Regions from separate parts of the Homo sapiens genome. Here all the other regions are reported to be linked to region 1. Evidence: microRNA targets listed by miRTarBase, many of them from high-throughput screens and not tested one by one. Region 1 holds a microRNA gene; each other region holds the end of a gene's coding sequence. Distances are between the middles of the regions.
The links. The annotated mature microRNA hsa-miR-4783-5p reads GGCGCGCCCAGCUCCCGGGCU and lies in region 1 at 1,915-1,935, opposite strand. An mRNA with a match to its seed (bases 2 to 7 or 8) in the 3' UTR can be bound and repressed. Matches are read on the target gene's strand: a 7mer-m8 pairs with bases 2 to 8, a 7mer-A1 pairs with bases 2 to 7 and ends in A, and an 8mer does both.

Region 1 (4,147 bases):
TAGGTGGGGACTCCCACCAGCCACAGTGTAGGTGGTTCAGTCCACCCTCCAGCCACTGCTGAGCACCACTGCCTCCCCGTCCCACCTCACAAAGAGGGGACCTAAAGACCACCCTGCTTCCACCCATGCCTCTGCTGATCAGGGTGTGTGTGTGACCGAAACTCACTTCTGTCCACATAAAATCGCTCACTCTGTGCCTCACATCAAAGGGAGAAAATCTGATTGTTCAGGGGGTCGGAAGACAGGGTCTGTGTCCTATTTGTCTAAGGGTCAGAGTCCTTTGGAGCCCCCAGAGTCCTGTGGACGTGGCCCTAGGTAGTAGGGTGAGCTTGGTAACGGGGCTGGCTTCCTGAGACAAGGCTCAGACCCGCTCTGTCCCTGGGGATCGCTTCAGCCACTAGGACCTGAAAATTGTGCACGGCCTGGGCCCCCTTCCAAGGCATCCAGGGATGCTTTCCAGTGGAGGCTTTCAGGGCAGGAGACCCTCTGGCCTGCACCCTCTCTTGCCCTCAGCCTCCACCTCCTTGACTGGACCCCCATCTGGACCTCCATCCCCACCACCTCTTTCCCCAGTGGCCTCCCTGGCAGACGCCACAGTGACTTTCTGCAGGCACATATCTGATCACATCAAGTCCCCACCGTGCTCCCACCTCACCCATGGTCTCTCAGCCCCAGCAGGCCTTGGCTGGCCTCTCTGATGGAGCAGGCATCAGGCACAGGCCGTGGGTCTCAACGTGGGCTGGGTGGTCCTGGACCAGCAGCAGCCGCCGCAGCAGCAACCCTGGTACCTGGTTAGGAACGCAGACCCTCTGCCCCCATCCTCCCAACTCTGAAAAACACTGGCTTAGGGAAAGGCGCGATGCTCAGGGGTCCCCCAAAGCCCGCAGGCAGAGGGAGTGATGGGACTGGAAGGAGGCCGAGTGACTTGGTGAGGGATTCGGGTCCCTTGCATGCCAGAGGCTGCTGTGGGAGCAGACAGTCGCGAGAGCAGCACTGCAGCTGCATGGGGAGAGGGTGTTGCTCCAGGGACGTGGGATGGAGGCTGGGCGCGGGCGGGTGGCGCTGGAGGGCGGGGGAGGGGCAGGGAGCACCAGCTCCTAGCAGCCAACGACCATCGGGCGTCGATCCCTGTTTGTCTGGAAGCCCTCCCCTCCCCTGCCCGCTCACCCGCTGCCCTGCCCCACCCGGGCGCGCCCCCTCCGCACACCGGCTGCAGGAGCCTGACGCTGCCCGCTCTCTCCGCAGCTGGCCTTCTGGTCCAAGCACGTCGGTGAGTGCGTTCTAGATCCCCGGCTGGACTACCGGCGCCCGCGCCCCTCGGGATCTCTGGCCGCTGACCCCCTACCCCGCCTTGTGTCGCAGACGGTGACCAGTGCTTGGTCTTGCCCTTGGAGCACCCGTGCGCCAGCCTGTGCTGCGGGCACGGCACGTGCATCGACGGCATCGGCAGCTTCAGCTGCGACTGCCGCAGCGGCTGGGAGGGCCGCTTCTGCCAGCGCGGTGAGGGGGAGAGGTGGATGCTGGCGGGCGGCGGGGCGGGGCTGGGGCCGGGTTGGGGGCGCGGCACCAGCACCAGCTGCCCGCGCCCTCCCCTGCCCGCAGAGGTGAGCTTCCTCAATTGCTCGCTGGACAACGGCGGCTGCACGCATTACTGCCTAGAGGAGGTGGGCTGGCGGCGCTGTAGCTGTGCGCCTGGCTACAAGCTGGGGGACGACCTCCTGCAGTGTCACCCCGCAGGTGAGAAGCCCCCAATACATCGCCCAGGAATCACGCTGGGTGCAGGGTGGGCAGGCCCCCTGACGGGGCGCGGCGCGGGGGGCTCAGGAGGGTTTCTAGGGAGGGAGCGAGGAACAGAGTTGAGCCTTGGGGCAGCGGCAGACGCGCCCCAACACCGGGGCCACTGTTAGCGCAATCAGCCCGGGAGCTGGGCGCGCCCTCCGCTTTCCCTGCTTCCTTTCTTCCTGGCGTCCCCGCCTTCCTCCGGGCGCCCCCTGCGCACCTGGGGCCACCTCCTGGAGCGCAAGCCCAGTGGTGGCTCCGCTCCCCAGTCTGAGCGTATCTGGGGCGAGGCGTGCAGCGTCCTCCTCCATGTAGCCTGGCTGCGTTTTTCTCTGACGTTGTCCGGCGTGCATCGCATTTCCCTCTTTACCCCCTTGCTTCCTTGAGGAGAGAACAGAATCCCGATTCTGCCTTCTTCTATATTTTCCTTTTTATGCATTTTAATCAAATTTATATATGTATGAAACTTTAAAAATCAGAGTTTTACAACTTTTACATTTCAGCATGCTGTTCCTTGGCATGGGTCCTTTTTTCATTCATTTTCATTAAAAGGTGGACCCTTTTAATGTGGAAATTCCTATCTTCTGCCTCTAGGGACATTTATCACTTATTTCTTCTACAATCTCCCCTTTACTTCCTCTATTTTCTCTTTCTGGACCTCCCATTATTCAGACCTCTTTCCTCTAGTTTTATTGTCTCTTCTATTTCCCATCTCTTTGACTTTGTGTTTTCTTTCAGGGAACTTTCTTTTTTTTCTTTTTTTTTGAGATGGAGTTTCACTCTTGTTGTCCCAGGCTGGAGTGCAATGACGTGATCTCAGCTCACCACAACCTCCGCCTCCTGGATTCAAGCGATTCTCCTGCCGCAGCCTCCCGAGTAGCTGGGATTACAGGCATGCGCCACCACGCCCAGCTAATTTTGTGTTTTTAGTAGAGAAGGGGTTTCTCCGTGTTGGTCAAGCTGGTCTTGAACTCCTGACCTCAGGTGATCCACCTGCCTTGGCCTCCTAAAGTGCTGGGATTACAGGCGTGAGCCACCGCGCCCAGCCTCTTTCAGGGAACTTTCTACAACTTTATAATTCAATTCTTCTGCAGAAAAAAATTTTTGGCCAGGCTCAGTAGCTCAGACCAATAATTCCAGCACTTTGAGAGGCTGAGGTGGGAGGATTGCTTGAGCTTGGGAGTTTGAGACTAGCCTGGGCAACACAGTGAGACCCTGTCTCTATTTTTAAAAAAAGTAAAAAAAGATCTAAAAATTTAACTTTTTATTTTGAAATAATTAGATATTTCCAGGAAGCTGCAAAGAAATGCCTGGTGGGCCTGTTGGCCTGTGGGTTTCCTGCAAGGCCTTGGGAAGGCCCTGTCATTGGCAGAACCCCAGATCGTGAGGGCTTTCCTTTTAGGCTGCTTTCTAAGAGGACTCCTCCAAGCTCTTGGAGGATGGAAGACGCTCACCCATGGTGTTCGGCCCCTCAGAGCAGGGTGGGGCAGGGGAGCTGGTGCCTGTGCAGGCTGTGGACATTTGCATGACTCCCTGTGGTCAGCTAAGAGCACCACTCCTTCCTGAAGCGGGGCCTGAAGTCCCTAGTCAGAGCCTCTGGTTCACCTTCTGCAGGCAGGGAGAGGGGAGTCAAGTCAGTGAGGAGGGCTTTCGCAGTTTCTCTTACAAACTCTCAACATGCCCTCCCACCTGCACTGCCTTCCTGGAAGCCCCACAGCCTCCTATGGTTCCGTGGTCCAGTCCTTCAGCTTCTGGGCGCCCCCATCACGGGCTGAGATTTTTGCTTTCCAGTCTGCCAAGTCAGTTACTGTGTCCATCCATCTGCTGTCAGCTTCTGGAATTGTTGCTGTTGTGCCCTTTCCATTCTTTTGTTATGATGCAGCTCCCCTGCTGACGACGTCCCATTGCTCTTTTAAGTCTAGATATCTGGACTGGGCATTCAAGGCCCATTTTGAGCAGAGTCGGGCCGACCTTTCAGCCCTCAGTTCTCCATGGAGTATGCGCTCTCTTCTTGGCAGGGAGGCCTCACAAACATGCCATGCCTATTGTAGGAGCTCTCCAAGAATGCTCACCTCCTTCTCCCTGTAATTCCTTTCCTCTGTGAGGAGCTCAGCAGCATCCCATTATGAGACCTTACTAATCCCAGGGATCACCCCCAACAGCCCTGGGGTACAATGAGCTTTTAAGAAGTTTAACCACCTATGTAAGGAGACACAGGCAGTGGGCGATGCTGCCTGGCCTGACTCTTGCCATTGGGTGGTACTGTTTGTTGACTGACTGACTGACTGACTGGAGGGGGTTTGTAATTTGTATCTCAGGGATTACCCCCAACAGCCCTGGGGTACAATGAGCCTTCAAGAAGTTTAAC
Region 2 (5,916 bases), not on the chromosome of region 1:
CAATTCCATCTGTGATTACCTGGGATCATATCTTACTCAGCTCAATGCCTGTTACCCGATATAGGTGTACTTCAGAGATATTGCATGTTCAGTTCCAGACCACTGCGATAAAGTGAGTCACACACATTTTTTTCTTGGTTTGGCAGTGCATAAAAACATTATGTTTACAATATACTGAAGTCTACTAAGTTTGCACTAGCATTGTGTCTCAAAATGTATATATCTTAATTTTAAAATAATTCATTGTATAAAATGCTAATAATCTTCTGCGACTTCAGTGAGTCACACTCTTTTTGCTGGTGGAGGATCCTGCCTGGGTGTTGATGGCTGCTGGCTGATCAAGGTGGTGGTTGCTGAAGGGTGGAGTGGCTGTGGCAGTTTCATAAAAGAAGACAACAATGAAATTTGCCACATCGATTAGCTCTTCCGTTCATGAATGCTTTCTCTGTAGTATGTGATGCTTTTGGATAGCATTTTACCCACAGTAGAACTTCTTTCAAAGTTGAAGTCAATGCTCTCTAGCTATGAAAGTCCTAGATGGCATCTCCTTCCAATAGAAGGCTATTTTATCTACATTGAAAATCTGTTGTTTAGTGTAGCCACCTTCATCAGTGATCTTAGCTAGATCTTCCGGATAACTTGCTGCAGCTTCTCCATCAGGGTTTGCTGCTTCACCTTGCACTTTTATGTTATGGAGACGGCTTCTTTCCTTAAACCTCATGAACCAACCTCTGCTAGCTTCACACGTTTCTCCTGCAGCTTCTTCACCTCTCTCAGAATTCATGGACTTGAAGAGAGTTTGGGTCTTGCCCTGAATTAGACTTTGGCTTAAGGGAATGTTGTGGCTGGTTTCGTCTTCTATCCTGACCACTTTCTCATTTAAGCAGTAAGGCAGTTTTGCTTTCTTATTCTTGTGTTCACTGGAGTATTAGTATTATTATTTTCTTCAAGAACTTTTCCTTTGCATTATATACTATTACTTCCTTCAAGAACTTTTCCTTTGCATTCACAGCTTGGCTGTTTGGTGCAAGAGGCTTAGCTTTCAGCCTGTCTTGGCTTTCAGCATGCTTCCTCACTAAGCTTAGCCATTTCTAGCTTCTGATTTAAAGTGAGAGACATGCGACTCTTCCTTTCATTTCAACACTTAGCGGCCATTGTAGGGTTGTTAATCTTCCTAATTTCGGTGTTGATATGTCTCAGGAAATACAGATGCCCAAGAAAAGGAAGAGAGGCAGGGAAGAGCTCATCGGTGGAGCAGTCAGAACACACACAATATTTGTCGATTAAGTTTGTCAACTTCTATGAGTGCAGTTCCTGTTACCCCCAGAATAATTACATACAACAGGGTGATTATAGTCAATAATAACTTAATTGTGCAGTATGAAAACTAAAAGAGTGTAAATGGATTGATTGTAACCAAGGATAAATGTTTGAGGGGATAGATCCCTTATTTTCCATGATGTGATTTTTACGCATTTGCATGCCTGTATCAAAACGTCTCATGTATCCCATAAGTATATACACCTACTGTGTACCCACAAAAATAAAAAACAGAAATTATTTTAAAAGACTAAAAAACAATAAAAACAATTGCAGTAATAATATCAAAGCTCACTGATCACAAATCACCATAACAGATATAATAATAATGGAAAAGTGTAAAATTGGTGAGAATTTCCAAAAAAAAAATTGCAACATCTGTGAAGCAGTATGAAAATGAGGTGCAATAAAACAAGGTACGCCTGTGTGGCCTTAATAAATACGTGCTGAATGAAAGGAGGTAAGGGTGAATGTTCCCGTAAGTGAAGAGGTTGGGAATCTAAACCTGACAACGGAAGGAGCCAGAAGCTAAAACTTTAATTTGCATTTGGCCTGTATTGGTGTGGGTCTAAGGTCTCAGCCTCTCTAAGCCAGAGAATGTGAAAAACTGGATAAAGAAGACCCATGGGCACTTGGTGGTGGGGAGGCATCTCCTTTTTTGGAGAAAACAGAGCCTAACACTCTCCAATCAACCCAACCCTCTCCAATCTACCCAACCCTCATCTTCCAACTCTTCTCCATCATAGGACCCAAAAGGGGGAAACATGCCTGGACCCACAGAGTGCGTGAGAGAAAGCAACTGGTGATTTATGAAGAGATCAGCGACCCTCAGGAAGATGACGAGTAACTCCGTAAGTGAACCTTTGGCTCATCTCCCACATCCTTGCAGATGTGCTATTCTGTTATGGTACTGGTATCCCATCTTATCAGTTGTTCCCCAAATCATTCCCTTCTCATAATTTTCTAGGGTACAGCATTGAGGCTGAATGATGAAATTTCCCATGTTTTTTTTTGTGGGTGGGGGAGTCTCCTTTTGTTCCCCCAGGCTGGAGTGCAGTGGCATGATCTCGGCTCACTGCAAGCTCCGCCTCCCGTGTTCACGCCATTCTCCTGCCTCAGCCTCCCCAGTAGCTGGGGCTACAAGCACCCGCCACCACGACCGGGTAATTTTTTTTCTTGTATTTTTAGTAGAGACAGGGTTTCGCCATGTCAGCCAGAATGGTCTCAATCTCCTGACCTCGTGATCCATCTGCCTCCGCCTCCCAAAGTGTTGTGACTACAGGCGTGAGCCTCTGCGCCTGCCTAACCATGCTCTTTCTACTCCCTGCCCTCTATATCCAGGGATCCTCCCTACCCAGGATGCTGTGGGTTCCCAAACCCCAGGTCAGCACTGATATGCGGGCCACACCTTCCTCTAGCCTAGGAATTGATAACCCAGGCGAGGAAGTCACTGTGGTATGAGCAGATGGTTCACTTCAAGGAACCATGGAAGGCGTGTACAGGTCCTGAGGTAGGGCAGAATCGGAGTGGGCAGGGTCTGCAGGTCAGGAGGAGTTGAGATTGAGTTGTCATGTGGTGGGAACTCACTGCCACTTACTTTCCTTCTCGCTTCTTGCCTCAGCCTCGGGGATATGACACATGCCCATGATGAGAAGCAGAACGTGGTGACCTTTCACGAACATGGGCATGGCTGCGGATCCCTCGTCATCAGGTGTATAGCAAGTGAAAGCAAGTGTTCACAACAGTGAAAAGTTGAGCGTCATTTTTCTTAGTGTGCCAAGAGTTCGATGTTAGTGTTTCTGTTGTATTTTGTTACAGTGTGCCATTCTGTTAGATATTAGCGTTTTCACTGATGAGCAAGACATACTTAATGCATATTTCAGTTTGTGTATCCATGCACCTACCTCAGAAAACAAGTATCGTCAGGTATTCTCTGCATAGAACAACACTACCCTCCTCTCTTCCCAGATGTGACCACTGAGGGCAGTTCTGAGTGTTTAATTTCAGATTTTTTCCTCTGCATTTACACAAACACACACACATGCCACACAGACACACATGCGCGCGCGCGCGCACACACACACACACACACACACACACACACACACACACCAAGTACCAGTATAGGCATCTCCCAACTGCTTTTCCCCATGTGTCCTGGTCAAGCCCCCCTCACTCTGTTTCCTGTTCAGCATGTACTCCCCTCATCCGATTCCCCTCTATCAGTCACTGCCAGTTAATAAACCTTTGCAAACGTTCCCCAGTTGTTTGCTCCTCTCATTATTGTGCACACAGCTCTGTGCACTTGTGTGAATATTTCTTTAGGAAAGATTCTTAGAAGTGGAATTGCTGTGTCAAAGGAGTCATTTATTCAACAAAACCCTAATGAGTGCGTCCTCGTGCTGAGCGCTGTTATAGGTGCTGAAGAGACATCAGGGAACAGGGCAGACAGATGTTCCTGACCACCATTCTAGAGGAGGATGTTTCCAGTTGTTGGGTTTTTTTTGCTTTTTTCTAGAGACAGGGTCTTACTCTGTCCAAGCTGGAGTGCAGTGGCATGATCATAGCTCAATGCAGCCTTGATCTCCTGGGCTCAAGCGATTCTCCCACCTCAGCCTCCAGCGAAGCTGTGACTACAGGCACACACCATCATGACCCACTAATTTTTTCAGGTTTTGTCAAGAAAGTCTCCCTATATTACCCAGGCTGGTCTCGAACTCCTGGGCCAAAGCGATCCTCCCATCTTGGCCTCCTAAAATGTTGGGATTACAGGCATGAGCCACCGCAACTGGCCTCCAGTTTTTATTTTGATAGAGACTATACACTTCAGTCCTGGAGCAGTATTCTGCAGCAGGTGGTTGGGAATCTTGGCCTTTGCTCTCTGAACGATTTTCGGGTTCTAGGGCTGGGACGGTCCATTTGGGAGTATGTGGTAGGAGACACAGATGAAATCATCATCTGGGGAATGCAGAGGGATGGGGAAGATGCGTGCACTGTAGACCCTGTGATGGCCAGGGAATAGAAGAGTTCACTTAGTCTCCATGCGGGGGAGCAACGGTGGGAAAGTCCCCTGGACAGAAGCATGAGACTGCCCATCAAGGGTCTCACCACCCAAGGGCCTGGGGGCTGGGGTGGAGACGATGATTTGGGAATGGGACAGTTCTTTCTCACAGGTACCACTGCACGGTGCAGAGGTGAAACAGTTGTGGGGAAGGGAAGGGCAGAGGGGAGTCTGTTTTAGAACAAACCATTGTGTGTGAATGGAGACATTAATGCTTGAAACACAACGGACTTGAAACAGCAGCCCCAGGTGGAGGCAGGATTGGAGCTGTTTTGACCATTCATACCCCATCACCTTGGCCTCCTGGTTCTCCCCAGCCTTGGAAGGAGAACACTATGATCATTATGCCTATATGATAGATGAGAGATAGAGTCCCAGACAGATGGTAGGTGTCTTGTCACAGGTCCTACAGCTGGCAGGTGCAGGAGGAGCTGAGTTTGGAGCTCACTGACTTCAGAAACATTAAGGAGGACAGGTGTGTGTGGTGGAGGGAGGGAGAATTGAACAAACTCCGGGTTCTGTCCCCAGTTGCAAGGTAGAGGCTGTGGGTTCATTTTCCCAAGACAAGGAGCCCTAGGAGAGAGAGAGTGCGGGGAGGGAGAGGCGGTCATGGTCACAGCAGGGACAGTGGGAGACAGAGATATGCAGGGTGGGCAGAAGAGGGGCAGGCAAAGAAGCAGGGGATACCCAAGGCCAAGTGTGGGCTGTCACAGCCACCAGAGGGAGAGGGTGCCAGGAAGGAGGTTGTGGGGCTCCAGGAGCAACAGAGGTTCCCCAGATCTGTGAGCATGCCCTGCCTGGCACTTCAGGAAGAGATGGCTTCCACCCAGGTCAGTGTGGACGTGCCTCTACCTGTGTCTCAGAAGAAACAAATTCTATTTTATCCCAATATAGTTCTGTATTACACAAATGTAACATTCCGATACTAGATATTGAGTGCCTTATCCTCCATGCAAAGAGGAGAGAATACCCTAAAAGAGATACTGAAGGATTTGACTTTTCTTTCTCCCTGGGATGATGGGATCCATAAGTTGGGTCCCCCAGCCCACAAGACAGGTGCAAGGAAGGGTGGCTGGAAGATTGTGAGTCATGACAGGGAACATTTTTCCTTAGGTTCCTTGGGTATATAAAGCTCCCGACTATCTGTCTATCATGGATAAAGAGTGAACATGGTCCCCTCTCCACAAATGTGTTTCTCTACTTCATTATTACTGTGAAGGGCTGAAGTTACACCAAGTCCTGATACATTTCTTTTTCGTGTTTTTTTTTTTTGAGACAGTATCGCAGTCTGTCGCCCAGGCTGGAGTGCAGTGATGCAGTGATCGAGGCTGCTCACTGCAGCCTCGATCTCCCAGGCTCAAGGGATTCACCCACTTCAGCTTCCGATCTAGCTGGGACTACAGGCACACACCACCACACTCAGCTGGTTTTTGTATTTTTTTGTAGAGACGGCATCCACTATGTTGCCCAGGGTGTTCTGGATCCCCTGGCCTCAGGCAATCTTCCTGCCTCAGCCTCCCAAAGTGCTGGGATGA
Region 3 (5,916 bases), 110 Mb from region 1:
TTCCCTTGTGCCCTAGCCTGGCGATGTGCCTCTTCTCTGAGGTCATTTGGGTGGACCCTGCCTGCCATAAGTGTCCCATTTTCTGTTTCTCCCACCTGGACCCGCCTGGCCTGCGAGCCCTTCTCAGCCACTGGCTCCTGCCGTGCGTCCAGCTCAGAACCAAGGTCTGGTATGCCTTGTTCCTTCTGTGGTGCCTGCCTTCGAAGCCTGCAGTCCCGCCTGTGCATGGCAGAGACCACACTCTCAGACCGCCAGCGGCCTCCTGTGGCTTGAGCCCCCTGGGGCCTTTCTCACTGTCACTCTGTCTTCCCAATGCCCTTGGACTGCTCAGGGCCACCTGCTCCAGGGTCTGCCGTAGGACAGCCCTTCCCTTCCAGGGAACTTTCACTGGCATTCTCCCCCTACTCCCCAGTTCTTTGCTATTGCATCCTCGGACATCCTCCCTAGACTCCACCCACCGCTCAGCTGCCTGCTCCGTGCAGGTAACCCCCACCCTCCCAGGGGCTGCACATGGTGGGTGCTGCAGTGGGGAGCTGTCTGGACACAGACCAGTCTCATGGGTTAGCGGCTCAGGCTCCTTGGCTCAGTTCTAGAAGCTCCCAGGTTTTGTTGGATGTTTTGGTTTTCAAAGTTATTTTCGTGTATAAAGTCATACTGTGTGAGCTAACCAGAAGCAGATGAAACAAGCCTTGGTTGTCATCTGTCTTCCCAGTTGAGGATGGACATACGTAAGTGTTCAGGTGATGGGAAAGGTTTTTCTCTGCAGGGCCCCAGCTAGGGTCAGGGGCACTGTGTGGGCAGGGCCCTCGGAGCTCCTCCCCTGGCAGTGCACGGCTAACAGCAGTCTTTCCCTCGGGTCTTGGTCTCCAACTGTGTGCCTGATGCCCACTCCTGTGCCCACTTGGGGCTTTTTCAGACCAAACCACCAGCCGGGTGACTTTCAGCCACAGTTAGTGAAGCCTTCAAGAATCTCAGCTACATCTTCATGGCAGACACTTCATGGAGGCTGCTTTGAGGCAAAGTTTATGCGTTCTGTTTAACAGATGACCTCTCAAGAGTCTCCTTCTCAGTTGAAAGGGGAGAATTTCACCAAAAACAACTGTCCGGCCCAGAGAGAGATCTGAGGTTTCTCCTGGTCTCCCACACATCAGAGCTCCTCTGCTCTGCTCGTCCTGCTTGTCTAAACCTAACTGCTTTTTCTCAGATAGTGCCCCAGCTCTTCCTTTTACCATCATCCTGCCCCTGGGATTTTGTCTCGTGCCTTTTCCCACCTTGTTCCATGATCTGGCACCGTGCCAGTCGCCTGCAGACCCCTTTCCATGAGTGACATCTGCCCCAGTGCTCCGTGCAGAGGCTCCTGCCTTGCTTTTTCACCTGCTCAGTCTAAAGGGCTTTCTTCTGGCCCAGCCACACAGGAGGGACCTCGGCCTTGTAGAGAATGGTGTGAGGTTGCATTATTGTGGGACCATCCTGAGGACTCAGCCCTTGGTGGCCCCGCAGGGCCCTCCCAGCTACCCTGGAATTTGATAGCAAGTCAAATCATGAACACCCCAGGTTTCATTTTAAACCACAATATAAACATGTTTAACTGGTTTCCTATGTTTTTCTGCTTTTCCCGCTTAAATGATAGATTTCTTGAGGAAAGAGACCAATTCTTCATGAGCTGCAACTACATATGGAGTTTTCATGCCTAACGTCTGAGTGCTCTCTGTGTGCCAGGCCATGCTGAACCGTTTTTACGTCTTATCTTCTTTCATCCCCACCAGAACCCCTTGATTAGATCGATTCTGTCCAATAGGCAGGCTGTCTCTCCTTTTAATAGATATGGAAAAGTAGCTTAAGTCTTAGAACTCCTAAATTCACTCGTGCAGCAGCGCTAGCTGGGCCAGGGTGTGGGATGTGGACTTCCCCACCAGCTTGTGCTCCCTGGGGGAGTGTGGGGAGCAGGGTCGGGGGGTTGCCATTATATTTTTGTTGTTTCTTTAACATAACTTACTTATTTAACGTAATGCCACTTTCTATAAGTATTTTTATACATGCAATGGAATAAGTAGAAAACAGTTAACCTTTTAGTGGCTGGCATTGGGAATTCTAGAATTTTGCTAACATCATTTTCTTTGTCTTTTTTTTTTCCTAGAGGAGAGAACACGTCTTACAGGATGGAAGAGAAAAGTGATTTCATGCTAGAAAAATTGGAAACTAAAAGTGTGTAGCTAGGTTATTTCGGAGTGTTATTTATCTTCCCACTTGCTCTCTGTTTGTATTTTTGTTTTGTTTTTGATTCTTGAGACTGTGAGGACTTGGTTGACTTCTCTGCCCTTAAAGTAAATATTAGTGAAATTGGTTCCATCAGAGATAACCTCGAGTTCTTGGTGTAGAAATTATGTGAATAAAGTTGCTCAATTAGAATTTTTAGGGTTCTCTTTGATAGGCCTGTTTTTCTGATGTGTGTGTTTTTTTTGGGGGGGGGTTATTTGTTTGTTTGTTTGTTTGTTTGTTTGTTTTTGAGACAGTCTCTCTCTATCGCCCAGGCTGGAGTGCGGTGGCACAATCTTGGCTCACTGCAACTTCCGCCTCCCGGGTTCAAGCGATTCTTCTGCCTCAGCCTCCCGAGTAGCTGGGATTACAGGCGCGCGCCACCACGCCTGGCTAATTTTTGTAGTTTTAGTAGAGACGGGGTTTCACCATATTGACCAGGCTGGTCTCGAGCTCCTGGCCTCGTGATCCATCTGCCTCGGCCTCCCAAAGTGCTGGGATTATAGGCGTGAGCCACTGCTCCCAGCCGTGTGTTCTTTTTTAAATTTAGATATGTCCAGAGAATCCTCTCTCCTGTTTCCCATTTCATTCGAGAATATTGTTTGCTTGTGAGACGTAAGTTCGAGCCCTGCATGCAATGACCCTTGAAGGAAAATAAACAGTCCTGGTGGTCCCAGACGCTCCTGCAGCCACAGCGCCTGTGACTCCTCATGATTCTTACTGAAGCTGTTGATGACAGGATATCATGGTGACGTTTTTGTAATGAAATATTTCACATATTCAGAATACATTGGTGAAACTCATGCTGGAGTAAATAGTTAATATATGGCCATATGAGTTTGGGTTTTTTTTTTTTATGAAAGATTTAAAATGAGATTAAATTACACATTTTTCATTCCCGCCTGCCGCCCCAGGCGATTGCTCTCCTGATGTCAGGTATCACCCCCATACCCTGCCCCATATCTCTTCCCCCCTGCGTCTTACATTGGGACCATGTTATGTGTGTGTGTGCGTGCGCACCTGCATGCTCAGGCTGCCATAACAATGCTGGAGACCAGGTGGCTTAAACAGTAGAAGTTTATTTTCTCACAGTTTTTGAAGACTAGAAGTTTAAGACAAGGGAGCCAGCATGGTTGGGCTCCGGTGAGGACTCTTCCTGGCTTGCAGAAAGCTGTCTTCTTGCTGTGTCCCCACATGCTGGAGAGAGCAAGGTCTCTGGTATCTTAGGAGGGCACTAATCCCATCATAAGGGCCCCTCACTCATGACCTCATCTAAACCTAATCACCTCCAGAAAGCCCCATCTCCAATACCATCATGCCAGGGGCTAGGACTTAATCATAATTCAATCCATAGCCTGTGAGTCAGTAAGGAGGGTGCACGCTGCTGAGAGCCGAGAACCTCGCCAGGTGCTGCAGACCTCACAGACGGCTCATTTCCTCAAAGAACAGGCCGGCAGTGTAATGCTGGCTCAGGCTCAGCCAGGGCCAGAATGGCCCCTACAGATCTAGAGCCTTCCCTCAGGCCTGCTGCTTCCTAAAGGACAACGCGACCCACCCTTTCCTCTTCAGGAAAACCATCACTGCAACCCAGAACTGCTTGTGCCTCTCCTTCCCCCACACCCAGCAGACAGCTGAAACCTTGCTGCCCGGGCCAGGCCTGGCTGCCAGAAAGGCCGGTGTTCTGTCATCCAGTGGAGGAAGGTGAGGTGGAAGGATCTGGGCATGGGTCTTGCCAACTTACAGATCTGCCAATAAGGGCCCCATAAACTATATATGGTATAGTCTCTCTGTTTCAAACTATATGAGTAAATTAATACTGTACATATGCTACAGTTTTGTTTCATCAAGAGACTGAATATGACAAGAGCTGATAGATGTGGGCATCTCACTTTGAGTTCTCTAGGTGGTTTATTGTCCTGGATGTCTGCGGACGGGTGCAAAATCCACCCGTGATCCTTGTGCATAACTGTCAACTATCTGTGGCACACACACACCTAGAGGCAAATTACAGGTCACGGATGGGTGTGCCTTGAACTTCCATAGTTATTGCCAAATTGCTCTCCCAAATGGCTGCCCCAGTTTGCCCAATGTCCCACAATATAAGAGGTACCTTTTCCCCACATTATCGCTGCCAGTTGCTGCCAGTCTGAGCTCTGGCAGGTGTAAGATGTGTTGCTTCACAGTTTGCTTTCTCTTGATGACTTGTTGAGCATGTCTTCCTGGGAGTCCTGGTTTTTTAAATGTCCTCAGGACACTGGTTTTATATTTGCCTCTTCCTGATTTGGATGTATTCTGGATCCAATGATATGAAACAATCCAGTTTTTAACTTCTATCATCTATCATTTGTCATTTAACTTTGTGTTATTTTATTGTATGGAAGTTACATTTTAACACAATGCTATGGTTCGGATGCCATTTGTCTTGAAATTTAATTGCACATGTAATTGTTAGGGGGTGGGGGCCTAGTGGCAGGTTTTTGGGTCATGGGAGTGGACACCCCATGAATAGATGAATGCCCTCTTGAAGGAGTGAGTTCTCACTCTCTGTGAGAGCGGGTTGCCTTTGCACCTGCCCACTCACCTTTCTGCTTTTCCACTGTGTCTCGAGATAGCACAAGGCCCTCACCAGAAACCAAGCAGATGCCAACATCATGCTCTTGGACTTTCCAGCCACCAGAATTAGGAGCTAAACAAACCTTTTCTGTATAAATTACCCAGCCTTGGGTATTCTGTTTTAGCAACGCTAAACATACTAAGGCAGATAACTTCCTCCTTTTTTCTGGCTTCTGCTGTTACTTTTAAAAGAAAAACTACCATACTCTCAGGATAAAAAAAATACTGTACTGTCTTAAATTTTGCTCTCTCCATTTAGGTCTATAAACCATCTGGAAATGTTTCTGCACAGGCATGGAAGGAGAGCCAATTGTACAGATGTACAGCTGCCTCCTTGTACTCTATCGAATGGTGCACTCTCCCCACTGCATCAGTGGTGTTCAAGCTTGTTTAGCAGCAATACTCTTTATCACTGGGCAGGAAATCAAGTCACCATTTGCTCCACAAAACAGTTTGAAGACCACTGTTCCAGAGAAGGCTTTAGCACGGGTTGGATTTTGGACAGCATAGCAGCTCTCTCCTGTTGATGGGACCCCGGATGGTGAATTCCTTTGGCAGTTGGACTGGGAACAGTTTGGAAGTCCTGGTTTACCTGCTCTGGGGACACCTAGACTATTCTGATGGCCTGAGCATAGCAAAAGCCTTCCCCACACTGCCCCTCTCTTCCCCTACATGTTCTTAGACATGGGGCTAATTTCTCCTTTTTGACCAGCAGCCAAATTCTGTTCCAGGCCTCACTGGGCTCCAGTTGCAACAGTCCAAACTTAACTTTGGTAACTTTAAGTCGCAAAGGGAAGGGCCTGGAATAAATGTCAGTTCCTCCATGCGGCCTTTCTGGATTGTCTCCAGACTTGCACACCCACCCTCCTGTGCCACTGTAGCACTTGCACCCTGGCTGCAGTCCTCCCTCTGATGTGTGTTGTGGTTAGGTGCCTTTCCCTTTAAGAAGTGTCCTGGCCTGGCACGGTGGCTCACGCCTGTAATCCCAACACTTTGGAAGGCCAAGGTGGGTGGATCACGAGGTCAGGAGTTTGAGACCAGCCTGGC
Region 4 (5,916 bases), not on the chromosome of region 1:
CTGCGGCGGCAAAGGAGATGGCTGGAGGTTGGGATGGATGCAATGATGAGTGTGCCTCAGGGTCTGGTTTCTGATTCCATAGAACAGCTGTGGTGACAGAGCTGTGGCCAACTGCTCCCTGGGCCGAGGGTGAAGGAAGCTGTGCTCCCACTGGTGCTAGGGAAGGCTGCTGCAGGGCTGGAGGCCTGGGTGCTGGACTGCTGGGGCAGGCTGCCTGCTGTACCCCCAAGCTGCAGTCAGGGCTCGCCCTGAGGCCCTGAGGTGGAGAGAGAGCAGCTGTCTCGTACACACCCATGTGCACAAGTGCAGGCACACACACACACACACACACACACACAAAAGACGTTCTCACTTCATCCCCGAATTCTCCCTCCTACACACAAAGCTAGTTCCCAGTTCTCCAGTCCCCCTCCATCCCTCTCCACTTCTGTAGTCTCTGCTGGGCTGCACTGGGGATCTGGTCCCAATTCCCCTCTCTTCCCTTGCTGCCCCTGTAACAAAGGGCTGGCCATGTGACATGATCTCCTCAGGCTTCAGAGAAGTGATTTTACCCTGAGCTACACAGGCAGGAAGACCACCAGCCTGGAAGGTGTGTGTGCAGGGTTGGGAAGAGGGGAAGGGCAGGTAGCAGGGGCCGAGGCCTGGGTTGCCCCACAGGGAAACTCACTATCCTCAGCAGGGCCCTTCAGCCACTTTCCCAACAAACAGCAAATCTCCGCCGATTGAACTCTGACTGAGGCAATGGGGGCATGCCAGGCAACAAGGTGGAGGTTTGCTACCGTGGGAGCAGGGAGAGCGTGGAACACAGACGCTCTGGGTGTTGAAGAGGAGGCTTCACCCTTAAATCCACACCAACAGCCCCCTTCACTTCCCCCGGTGAAGAACGAAGGACCCTGTGGGATTTCTACTTCAAATCTCTCATTTATTCCGACATCCACTCGGTTATGACTCCAAGTTATCAAAGATGCAAGACAAGAAGTCTAGAGCAGGAGTGGTGAAGTGGAGGTGGAGAAAGACGGCGGAGAGGGCTGTGTTCCTGGCCCCTCCTTCTCTTCCAATTTAGGGCACCGTTTGAAAAGTGTACAAGTAGTGTCCCTTAGCACAGACTAGACAGCAGAAAAGGACAGTGCAGTTGAGTGGGGGAAGCTTCCTTTTCCACAGGGTGGGGCCCTGCGGCTGCAGCGGGCAGGCAGGCAATCTCGAGCCTGGTTGGAGACCGTGCCCTGAGCAGCGTGGGCTATGTGGGGAAGAGCTGGGGCCCACCATCTCTCCAGCACCCCAAACCCAGATTCTGATTTGTGGGGCTAGCAGGGCTTAGCTAGGAAAGCGGTAGGAGGGAGGGGATTGCACAGGACGCTTGTACTCAGGGACCCCATCAATCAGGGGCAAGAAGTGGGTGATGGTTAACTGGGTCTTGATTTTTACAAAGGCAGGACGTACGAATGATGTTATTTCTGGCAAGGAGGACACGGCTGCTGTGGTTGATTGGCTGTGGAATTCCAGGGGAGCAAGGCACTAGGAAGTGGGGAACGCTGCCAGGCCCAGCAGCTCATCAGGAGCTTGCACTTGGCCCAGTTAGGGCTGGCCGTGGGACGGGCTTGTTGAAGCTGCTGCCGCCATAAGCTGCCCCTCTGCACCAGGAGACAGATCCCATTACCCCACCTACAGCTGCTTCCTGGTACAAGAGAAGAGTTACCATTTGAAATGACTCCACAGGAGAGTCTGACAAACATGTTTGCTTTTCACTGACAATTAAAATTGTTTTGCTGCTAATCTTGTTTTATTGTGGTCTTTCATCCATCAGCAAGCATCCCTGCACGCAAGATCAGAGTTGGGTAAATACATCCAGACCCTGCCAGGATTAGGGCAAGAGGGAGTGCTCTGGGCCGGCAGATCTTTTTCGGAAATTCTCACTTCTTGGAGCACTAAAGGGTTGTTAGTCTATCTGGGCAAGCCTCGTTTCCCTGGAGAAAATGGAGTCTCAGAGATTAGTGACTGGTCCTAGAGCTAATGAGTGACCAAAGTGTGACCAGAGCCCAGGTCTGCTTCTCAACCCAGGGCACTTTGATTCCAGATTGAGATGTAAGGTGACAGGTGCCTTAATAGTGGCGCAAAAGATGTGCATTCCCCTCTTCCTCCCTCCCCGCTCCCTGCTCCCCCAGCGGCACCCTGACCTTCCTCAAATGCAGAATCAAGATTTCAGCAGGGGGGCCAGCCCTTTCCCTGCCCCACCCTCCTCGAATTCAGTGACTCAGGAGTGGGAAGGGGGTTAGCTATGCCCTTAGAAGGGGGCCAGCTTCTGCAGAGGCCACTGGAAAACTCATCAGGATTCTCACTCACAAAGCCACTGCCACATTCTAAGTAGGAAGTCGGAGTTGGAAATGAGGCTGGTGTGAGACACAATAAATGGCTCATCGCCAGGAAACTGGGGAGTAGGGCGGCCAAGGGAGGGCGGCGAGCGTGGAATCCCAAGGCTAAGTCACGTCCCTCCCATCCTCAGGACTGGGCTGTTGCTCTGGTGAGATGAATGAAGATCCTGCTCCACGGCGTCACAGGTGGATGCTTACATAGAATGCCGGGCTCTGGGGGACTTGACGTGGTTTCAGCCGCTGCAGCATCGCCCCACAGAGATTCTGTGCTCTTCCTGTTCACCAGCCCGCTGTCTGCCATGGGGATTGGTCACGTGTTAACCACCTTTCGTTCAAGCTGTTTCGGGATCAGACTTTTCCTTCTCTGGTACATGGGAGACCTTTCCTCTCTGCAGCTCCTGAATGTACAAAGCCCCTGGTGCCTACCCGTGGTTACTGTGTGTGTGTGTGTGTGTGTGTGTGTGTGTGTGTGTCTGTGCGCGCGCGCGCGCGTGCGTACACCTGGGAACGGTTATGCACACCCTCACAGGACTGCATCCACACAAGCTACTCGGCGTGGTGGGCTGGGCCGAGAGACAGTCAGCTGGTCTCTTTGCTAAGCTACCAGAAGTCGGCTAACAAAATGAAAAAACTTCTCCAGCAGGGGGCGCTGGTTCCTAAGTCAGAGAAAGGATTTCGGGGAACACAAGGTTAGACACTTTCTGGTGCAGTCCCCACAAGCCACCTTAGGCTTTAAAGTCAACTTGACACGTCCCACGAGGAAGGGGGCAGGTGAGATGTGATACGTTCAGGAATCAACGACCCTACGGGAGCAGCTACAGTGACAGCAGTAGCTATGGTAACCAACGTACAAAGCTGGGCTGTGAACTAGCTGTTGGAGTCGTTTCAGCAAGCGCGTCCTGAAGCAGTGCCGTTGACGCCCCGCCCCTCGCTTCTCCAATGCTGGAATTGTAGCTCTCACTTCTCTCCTTGCCCTCTGTCCCCTTTTCCTAGGCACGGATGCTTCATCTCCCGAGGACCCGGGAGGCCTCCTGAGCCTTTGCTGAGCTTTCCCTGGTGCTCCTTTTTGCAGTCCAGCGAATCCAGGGGACTGGGGCACACTGCAAGGGGTTGTGGTGGTGCTGGGGCTGCCAGAGGAGTGTCCCAACCAAGAAACTGGCGAAGCTGCAGACTCGACCTAGCAGTCCCCCACCTCTGGCCCACAGAGTTGGAGCCAGGCCCTGTCTTGGTTCTCAATGCACTCAAAAGCTTAAATCCTAGTAAACCCTCCACTGCGGAGCGAGAAAAGCCAAAGAAACAGAAACAACCCATGTGGGGCTGTTGGAGGGTCATTCATCACCCCCATGGCCCCCGCCAGGGCAGCAGTGTGGGTGTGTGTGCGGGTCGGGGTGGAAGGATTTACACGTCTGTACTAATAGCCCTTGGATTGGTGAAGGCCTCACGCCCAGAGCCTGGCCAGGTCACCGGGTAACTCTGGGGTGCTGCCAATTTGAGGGATGGGGGTCCCCCCTCTTTGTAGTATGTGGGAGCAAAGGAGAGCCTCTCGCCTCCACCCCCATTGGGCACCATGTCAGCCGTCCGTATGTAAAAGGGGGAGCTGTATGGGGAGCAGGTAGTGCAGTGGCTCGCGGCCACCCCACAGGGCTGGCTGCAGGGCTCGCTGGTGAGAGGCGCCAGGCTGCCTCTGCCGTCCAGGGCTTGGGAGCTGCAGGCATTGCAGGTGGGGCCTCTGGGATGCGTGGGAAGGTCGTGCTCCCGCTCCTCCTCCTCGTCTGCAACCTCGGTTCCGCTCTTCTTGCAGCAGTAATACTGTGCGGAAGGGCAGAGGGATGCCTGAGAGGGTGAATGCTCCCCCCGCCCCATGCATTTTTGAGCGTGCACAGGTGCCCCTGTCCCCTGCTCCATGGAGAACCTAGTGCCAGGCACTGAACCCCAGGGGCCTGCTCCACAAGTTTCTAATCCCAGCTTTGCAAGGCCAGTACTGCTTTCCTTTTCCCCTCCCACCACTCCTCGCAGTAACTCCAGGCTGTAGTTGAGCGGGGCAGGGACACACACATCATATTGAGGACAGGGCTGGAGCTGCTGGCGGCAGCTTTCAGAGCCTCCCCAGAATGGTGCTCTTCCCATGCTCCTGAAATCTCAGAGGTGCAGGAGACACAACCCAATGACCCCGTATCTTTCCAGCACACTTTCTGTGTGCTCTGAGTGGGCAGGCTGGGGGGCACTTAGCTCCCTTCCGACCAGCCCCAACTCCCATCCTCCTTGACTTACGCCTGCTACATTCCATAGCTTTGGGCTCTGTGGGCCCTGAAGTCGGCCTCCAGTTTCTGCCCCCATAATGAAAAAGAGGTTTGCTGGTGGCCTGGCAGCCTCTGGCTACGGGTCCCGGGGACTGACCTGGAGCCTGCAGTAGCACAGGACGGCAATGATGCAGAGGAGGATCACCGTAGCTAGGATTCCGCCAGTGATCACAACCGTTCCCGCTGTCATCCGCCCGGCGCCCCATCAAACTCTGCAAAGATGTGCGGAGGGCTGAGGACCAGCTGTGGCTGCAGCCCTGGGCTGGGCCGGGGGGAGTCTTCCTGGAACTGCCCCGAGGCTGGGGCAGGGGGCCTGAGAGCAGCAGGTGCCGGGAGGGCCAGGCCCCAGGGGTTTCCTGAAGGCTGAGGACGACTGTGGCTCCAGACTGGGCCAGCCTAAGTGGGCGAAGTTGAGTACCCAGTTTCAAAAAGTTCTCACGATCTTTCCCCTTTGGTGCTCTTCTCGCCTTTCCTCTCCCGTCACACCCTTCTTAGCTCCCGCTTCTGCGTGGCTGCAGACACAGAGGAACAGCTGCCGCTGATTGCGGGGCTCCTCCCTGTGTGGCATCATGCTAAGCACCCCCACGCATCTTACTACATCCTCGCGATAACCCTTCGGGGCAGTTATTAGCTATCCCTACCGCACGCATGCTGAACGGGGCTGCGAATAATTTGGCTGCGATTCCACCCAGCCCGTTCATCCCAAAGGCTGTGCTCTTGATCCCCGCCCTCTTGGCACACACCCCAGTGGTCCCTGAGCCTTTGGCCCGGGCTGGCGGGGAAAGGGCCACATCTCGAAAACACCAGGTGGCTCTTCTCTGGCTCAAACCAGCACTTCTTTTGGGGGTATCTCTCTTCTCCTTCAAACCCTCCTGGAAAACAAAGGCAAGGCGAGCCCAGAGGGAGTGGTGTGTGGCATTCTGGGCCCTGGAAGGCTGTGGCCAAGCTGGGGAGACTGGTCCTGGCTTCTGAGGCTGAATGAACAGGACAGAGGCAAGCTCTGGGCATGAGGCTGTCATGGCTTCAGACAGATTCTCCTTTTAGGTCAGTGAATGGGGATTTCTGAGCCTCCCAGGTGCATTGGGACCAAGGGGCAGGAGGGTGGGGAATGGGAAGTTGGCATCTTGGAGATGGAAAAATGACTACGATCACTTACATTCAGTAAAGGGAACGGCGACCTGCAAGACAACAGAAAGGACAGAGATGTTGGAAGAAGAGAGTTACTCACTGAAAAAGGCCAGAAGGGT

Region 2: the mRNA of SSX5 is a reported target of hsa-miR-4783-5p. Seed matches in the 3' UTR shown: 7mer-A1 at 3,389-3,395.
Region 3: the mRNA of HJURP is a reported target of hsa-miR-4783-5p. Seed matches in the 3' UTR shown: 7mer-m8 at 2,629-2,635.
Region 4: miRTarBase lists FAM163A as a target of hsa-miR-4783-5p. Seed matches in the 3' UTR shown: 7mer-A1 at 2,846-2,852.

The regions. Positions count from the first base shown.
Region 1 is chr2:127,421,672-127,425,818 of GRCh38, forward strand. It overlaps MIR4783 (microRNA 4783), which reads right to left and starts at 1,947; the gene lies at 1,866-1,947. PROC (protein C, inactivator of coagulation factors Va and VIIIa) reads left to right here. Exons shown (of 9, transcript NM_000312.4): 4 at 1,246-1,270; 5 at 1,363-1,500; 6 at 1,603-1,737. LOC105373608 (a long non-coding RNA gene) reads right to left here. Exons shown (of 2, transcript XR_007087228.1): 2 at 3,029-4,147. RefSeq lists enhancers at 815-1,613, 1,614-2,410.
Region 2 is chrX:48,183,882-48,189,797 of GRCh38, reverse strand. SSX5 (SSX family member 5) reads left to right here. Exons shown (of 8, transcript NM_175723.2): 7 at 2,067-2,171; 8 at 2,942-3,578. The coding sequence ends at 2,167. Among named protein-coding and RNA genes, the nearest start is that of SSX5, 10 kb to the left of the region's middle.
Region 3 is chr2:233,833,874-233,839,789 of GRCh38, reverse strand. It overlaps HJURP (Holliday junction recognition protein), which reads left to right. Exons shown (of 9, transcript NM_018410.5): 9 at 2,138-3,088. The coding sequence ends at 2,213. Among named protein-coding and RNA genes, the nearest start is that of HJURP, 18 kb to the left of the region's middle.
Region 4 is chr1:179,812,041-179,817,956 of GRCh38, reverse strand. It overlaps FAM163A (family with sequence similarity 163 member A), which reads right to left. Exons shown (of 5, transcript NM_173509.3): 3 at 5,826-5,847; 4 at 4,767-4,881; 5 at 1,759-4,178. The coding sequence starts at 4,859. The coding sequence ends at 3,768. It overlaps LOC105371634 (a long non-coding RNA gene), which reads left to right. Exons shown (of 5, transcript XR_007066756.1): 3 at 83-589; 4 at 1,430-3,058; 5 at 3,363-3,662. Among named protein-coding and RNA genes, the nearest start is that of MIR12116, 11 kb to the right of the region's middle. RefSeq lists a silencer at 4,638-4,863.